2 linked regions of the Homo sapiens genome follow. The protein of the gene in region 1 purifies or fractionates together with the protein of each later gene. This does not show direct contact. Each region holds a gene or a part of one and is shown in the gene's direction. Other genes may lie near its edges.

Evidence for each region.
Region 2: the proteins of SLC2A2 (region 1) and MOXD1 purify together in Homo sapiens (affinity purification with mass spectrometry; one large-scale study listed by BioGRID and IntAct). This does not show direct contact.

What each region holds. Positions count from the first base shown.
Region 1 is NC_000003.12:171,020,221-171,023,720, reverse strand, and holds part of SLC2A2 (solute carrier family 2, facilitated glucose transporter member 2), read left to right. Parts: intron 1-3,500.
Region 2 is NC_000006.12:132,394,976-132,398,475, reverse strand, and holds part of MOXD1 (DBH-like monooxygenase protein 1 precursor), read left to right. Parts: intron 1-3,500.

The sequences.
Region 1 (3,500 bases):
ATAATAATTCCTACCTACTGGGTTGTTGAGAAAACAGGCAAACCATCTAGAACCTCAGAACTTGGACAGGTTAAGATCCTCTCTAATTTCTTGCTATTTTCAGTAGCACTTATGTACTTCTTCTTGTGTCAACTTCTTGGACATTAGAGTGGATGAATGAAGGTTGACGGGGCTTATTAAGACTTGGTCGTGTTCAGAAATTTCCCCTTAGAAACAAAACCTCCTTTGACCAAGTCTAGAGCCAAGCCACATACAAGGCTGACTATAAACATTACTTCTTTTCATTTCACAACATTGGAGAAAGAAAAGATGAAGGAGTGGGAGCCATTTTAACATGGAGTTCAGAGAGGGCAATTAAACCTGAAAATAAAAGATAAAGAAAAAGAAAGCAAAAGGAAATGCCATTAAACAGTTTCAGAGATTTTGATATTTGGGATAATCACTTTTGTTGGAAATTCTCAGAAATTCAAATGACCTGCTTAAAATGGATGAGATTGCTCCTTATCTGACCAACCTGGTAAAATTCTATCTTGAGGAGTTAAAATAAGGAACTGCAGGCCCTGGGGTGGCAGGACCACAGTCAACCCTCAAAAAGAAACCAGGAAGGCCAGAGGATAAGGACTTTAATAACACGCTAAGATTTCTAAATGTTTAAAAACTCTCCTATCTCCTTCATAGTTGCTATTTTTGTTATTCTAATAAAATGAGAAACTGATCTTAGAGGCAGCTCCAGAATTTCTATACTATAGAACAATTTGATTGGAAAGAAATAGGATGGGAGATCCAGCATCTTTAAAAATTAGCTTTCATTTTTGTCAAAGTAATGTGGGACTTTGTGACTTAGGCTGTGTATGTAAAGTGACAGGGGTGAACTAATGGAGACGACAGGGGAGTACATGTGCTGCAGCTATCGCTATCACCCCAACTTCAATTTCTGTGTCGCCCCTGCTCACCATTAGCATGGCTACTGATTGGACTCTTAAAATAAGGAGAAATAAATTATATGTTTGTATGGTAGAGGGACAGGGAGAGAACCCCCAGAGAACAGAAATCCAGGGATGAAGCAGGAGGTGACAGTCACTAATAAACCAAGTGCCACAGAAGAAAAGAAAATGCAGGGATGAGACTGGGAAAGTATATTGTGGTCTTGGGCTTGGTGGTGGGAAGACCCTGAGGTTCCTCTTCAGCTCAGCTACCGATGAGCAATTGAGTAGGCTTTGCCTTTTTGGACTTTTGTCCAGAGACCTCACCAAAAGTTTCTACTGGTAAGTGGGGGAAAAGGGATTTGTGTGGTAGGTGGTGGGAAAATGTGGTTGAGATTTCTGTGTGTTTGAAGCCAAACAGCTAAACACCCACAAGTGGTAAATTCTGTGGATATGTATGCTCTTAGCTTTTTTAATTTATAAAGATTATGGTCCTAGATTTTTCAGATGTGCTTCGCTTTTGAATGTCTGTATCTGACTAATGAGGGATGCAAAATAACCAAGAAGTTAAAAGCGTAAGATCTGGAACCAAGTCATTGTTCTTTAATTTACTAACTGTGAGATGTTAAACTAATCTAGTTATCTATAAAATGGGGACATTAATGGTGCTGCCATGAAGAATGTGGTAGACAGAATAATCGTCCTCCAAAGAAGTCCACAGCTGCATTGCCAGAACCTGGGAATATCTTGCCTTATGTGGCAAAAGACTTTACAGATGAGATTAAGGTAATAGACCTAGAGATGAGATTTTCCTGGATTACCCTGATGGGTCAAATCTAATCCTATGAATTCTCAAAAGGGAAGAACTTTCCCAGCTACTTGTCAGTGCCAGAGAGATGTAACATGAGAAGGACCTGACCTGCCCATTACTGGCTATAAAGAGGAAAGAAAGATACCAGTAGCCAAGGAAATTTGGTGGCATCTAGAGCTGGGAATGGCCCTTAATTTATAACCAGGGCAAAACGACAGACTTTAGACCTATAACCAAGAGGAACTGAATTCCATCATCAACCCAAATTTTCTCCAACAGCCTCCAGAAAGGAACACAGCCTACCAACAACCTGATTTTAGTCCAGTGATACTTATACCAGACTTCCCATCTATAGATGTTGTTGTAGAGATGGGGATCTCGCTATGCTGCCCAGGCTGGTCATGAACTCTTGGCCTCAATTAATCCTCCAGCCTCAGCCTCCCAAACGCTGGGACTATAGGCATGAGCTGCCATGCTTGGCTATACTTTAAGATAAATAAATTTGTGTTGTTTAAGCTGCTGCACTGGTGGTAATTTGTTACGGCAGCAATAGAAAACTAATTTAAGAAGTAAATGAGATAATCCACATAGTGAACAGGCATGCAGTAAGCATAAGTAGTATTAGGCTTTGAATCTGTTTGTGTTGCATCTCACATGAGATTGTCCTGGTTTCAGTGATGGAGAGTATGAGGGAAGTGGGTTAAAGCCCTCCCAGGGTACTCCTTATCCCATCACTTCTGACAATGGCTACCACCTGTAAAAAGGATGAAAATCCCTATCCTTGGAAATAGCTTGAGGGGAAAAAGGATTTGAGGAGAAACCACCAACTAAGTAAATAAAATTCCATCTTAGATTTGGCTATCTAAGCCACTGAGTTTTAGATGTCGAGTTACATTTTAGATTTTAAATTCAAAATCTTTCATACTCACATAGACCATATATCATATAGTGTGTGTATGCATTTTATGTATAATATATATAATTCACGTGTAATAAACATAAAATGTTAATATATCTTATATGTAAGATATAAATGATATATATAAGTGATAAATATCAGATGTAAATGATATATAAATATATAAAATAAATATATATATTTTGAGACAGGGTCTTGCTTTGTCACCCAGGCTGGAGTATGGTGGTGCAATCATAGCTCACTGCAGCAGCAACCTCCTGGGCTCAAGCAATCCTCCCACCTCAGCCTCCTGAGTAGCTGGGACTACAGGCATACACCACCATGCCCTGCTAATCTTTGTATTTTTTTGTAGAGACAAGGTCTTGCTATGCTACCCAGGCTGGTCTCGAACTCTTAGGCTCAAGCCATCTGCCCACCTCAGTCCCTCAAAGTGGTGGGATTACAGGTGTGAGCCACTATGCCTGGCCAATTTATATCTAATAAACATATTATGCAATATTATATATCACATATATATTATTCTTTTGGGCAATATATATGTATCATATAACCATGTCTTTTGGGTCAACTTTGAAGTCCTTTCTTTCAGAGAAAGAAGTGTTAGGAGGGAAAGTCTGACAGATACCCCCTATATTAGTGAAAGGGGTGGAAGCTTTGTAAACCTACAGATTCCCTATCCCCACCCCAGAGATTCTAATCCAGTAGAAGATCTGGGGCTGTCTCCAAGAAGCTACATGTGTAACAGGCTCTCCAAGTAGGGTCTGGTTTTAGAACCACTGGACTAAATAATTTCAAGGGCTCCCAGGATGGTTCTGTGACAATACTTTGTGAAATTTCTGATCTCTAG
Region 2 (3,500 bases), on another chromosome or scaffold:
TAATAACCTAAGTTGCTATCCTAGTCACCTCATCATGTGGCTTTTTGGCATGTATTTTATTTTATCCTTTTAAATTTAATTTTAAACTAAAACTTTAGTTTTTAAAAATTTTTCTGACTTTTATTTTCCTAATTATATTAAACTCTTCTTTCAAAAGGGTGTTAACTCCTTGAGAACTATGTAAGTGTAAATTTTTATCGATCAGGTAGAGAATCATTGGCTTAATAGATGTCACAAGTCCAAATGTCTATAGATGTCAGGAAATAAATCTAAGAGTGACTGGAGGCCATTAACTTAAGTGAAACAAGCTAGATGCAGAAAGATAAATACTGCATGTTCTCACTTATAAGTGGGAGATAAATAATGTGTACACAAGGATGTGGAGTGTGGAATGATAGACAATAGAGACTCAAAAGGGTGAAGGAGTGGGAAGGTGTGGAGGAATAGAAATTACTTATTTGTTACAATGTATGTTATTTGGGTTATGGATACACTAAAAGCCCTGACTTCACCACTATGCAATCTCTGTGTGTAAAGAATCTGCACTTGTAACGCATACATTTATATAAATTAAAAAATGAGAAAAAAGAGTGATGAGAGCTTGAATGGAACAGGCAGGATGTAATGCAACAGAGAGGAGATGGCACTGAGGGAACTGGGGGTTTTGTGAGTGAATTACTGTTAAAAAGGAATGTAAATTCAGTATTGCCAGATCTTCTGTTTGTTCTTTTATTTTGAGAGAAGACAAAATTTAGATTCTCTTTACTCTTTCTTTTTCTTTCTTTCTTTCTTTCTTTCTTTCTTTCTTTCTTTCTTTCTTTCTTTCTTTCTTTCTTTCTGTCTCTCTCTCTCTCTCTCTCTCTGTGAGTGTGTGTGTGTGTGTTTAAATAAAAATCTAATTACTAAATACTGGCAACAATTCAACCATCATATAGTGTGCATTCACACACACTCACACACAATTTCAGCTGGGATATATCTTATAGACAGCCTAATCTGGGACTCAGAGAGAAAGTCTAATGTTAATAAAGAATCAACCCAAATAATGAAAATTCATGAAAGGCAGAGAAGCAAGTCCCATTTCTTTTTAGGCCAGTTCTATTCTATGCCAGGAAATGGGTCCAGTATTGGGGGCTTTGCCCATTGTTCTGGCTGTCTATTCTTGGTAACAAACCATCTCCATACAGAGTAGCTTAACGCAATGACAAATTTCTTTTGCTCACAAGTCTGAAATTTGGTGGGGACAACTCCAAAGTGGGTGGTTGGAAGAATATGAAGCCTTGTTTCCTTGAAGTTATGGCTGGCAGTTGATGTTGGCTCTTGGCAGGGACCTTGCCTGGTGCTGTGGTAGGATCATAGCCTCTCTGTGTGGCTGCTTGACTTTGTCACAGCATGGTGGCAGGTCCCAAGAGGGAACCAAGAGGCCAGGTGGCAACTGTACAGCCTTTTATGACTTAGTCTTTCACTGTGGTCACAAGCCCACTAGATTCAAGAGGGAATGTAGACTCTATCTGAACATCACGTAAGAAGACAGTCACATGGGAATTCAGCAGTGAAGCCCCAAGTCTTGGACTTTCTATGTTGGGGGAGACTTTTTATTACTGATTCAATCTCATTACTGATTGTTGGTCTATTCAGGTTTTTTAGTTCTTCTTGATTCAGTCTTGGTAGGTTGTATGAGTCAAGGAATTTATCTATTTCCTCTAGGTTTTCTAGTTTGTGAGTGTATTGTTGTTCATAATAGTCCCTGATAATCTGTTGCATTTCTTTGATATCAGTTATACTTGTCTATTTTTTCATTTTTGATTTTATGTGGGTATTCTCTTTTTTTCTTGGTTATTCTAGCAAGTTGTTTATCAAGTTTGTTAATCTTTTCAAAAAACTAACTTCCTTTTATTGATCCTTTGTATTTTTTTTGTCTCTGTTTTGTTTAGTGTTGCTCTGATCTTTATTATTTCTTTTCTCCTACTAATTTTGGGTGTGGTTTTTCTTGTTCTTCTAGTTTTTTTTAGGTGAATTATTAGATCATTTATTTGAAATCTTTCTACTTTTTGATGTAGGTGTTTGTTGCTATAAACTTTCCTGTTAGCACTGCTTTTACTGTACCCTATAGGTTTTGATATGTTATGTTTCCATTTTATTTCAGAATTTTTTTTTCCTCTTTAATTTCTTTCTTGACCCATTGGTCATTCAGGAGTATGTTGTTTAATTTTCATGTATTTGTGCAGTTTCCAAAGTTCCTCTTGTTATTGGTTTCCAGTTTTATTTCATTGTGGTCTGAGAAGATACTTGATATGATTTCGATTTTTTAAAATTTGTTGAGACTTGTTTTGTGTCCTCACATATGGGCTGTCCTAAGGAATGTTTCATGTGCTGATGAGAGGAATGTATATTCTGTAGCTGTTGGATGAAATGTTCTGTAAATGTCTGTTAGGTCCATTTAGTCTAATGTGTAATTTAAATCCAATGTTTCTTTGTTAATTTTCTGTTTAGATGACCTGTCTAATGCTGAGAGTGGGCTATTAACGTTCCTATTACTGTGTTGGAGTCTATCACTCCCTTTAGATCTAATAATAATTGCTTTATAGATCTGGGTGTTTTGGTGTTGAGTGCATATGTATTTAGAATTGTTGTATTTCTAAATATATATGCAGCTCTTGCTGAGTTGATCCCTTTATTATTACATAATGACATTCTTTGTCACTTTTTAGTGTTTTATACTTAAGGTATGTTTCACCTGATATAAGCATAGCCACTCATGCTCACTTTTGATTTTTGTTTGCATGGAAGTTCTTTTCCCATCCTTTAATTTCAGTTAGTATATGGCTTTACAGGTGAGATGAGTATGGTAAGCAGTGTATAGTCAGGTCATGTTTTTTAACCCATTCAGCCAGTCTGTATTTTTAAGTGAAAGTTTTAATTTGTTTACATTCCGGGTTATTATTGATATGTGAGAGCTTATTCTTCTTATTTTATTAACTGATTTCTAGTTGTTTTGTGTATCCTCTGTTCCTTTCTTACTCTCTTATTTTTTATTATTGTGGTTTTGTGGTTTTTCTGTAGTGGTAACCTTCTAGTCTTTTCCTTCTTTGTATGTTTGCTCTAGTAGTTTTTATATTTCATGTGTTTTAATGATATTAGATATTGTTCTTTCACTTTTGGGTGTAGGACTCCCTTGGCATTTCTTATAGATCTGGTCTAGTGGTGATAAATTCCCTCAGCTTTTGCTTGTCTGGGAAAGACTTCATTTCTCTTTCATTTTATAAAGAATAACTTTTCTGGGTATGGTATCCTTGGTTGGCAGTTTTTTTTCCTTTCAGCATCTTGAATATATCAGCCCATTCTTTCCTAGTCTATAAGGTTTCTGCTGTTAGTCTAGTCTGACAGACGTACCTTTATAAGTGACTTGATGCTTTTCTCTTGCTTTTTTGAGTTTTCTCTGTGTCTTTCACCTCTGATATTTTGACTATAATGTGCTGAGCAGAAGAACTTTTTGAATT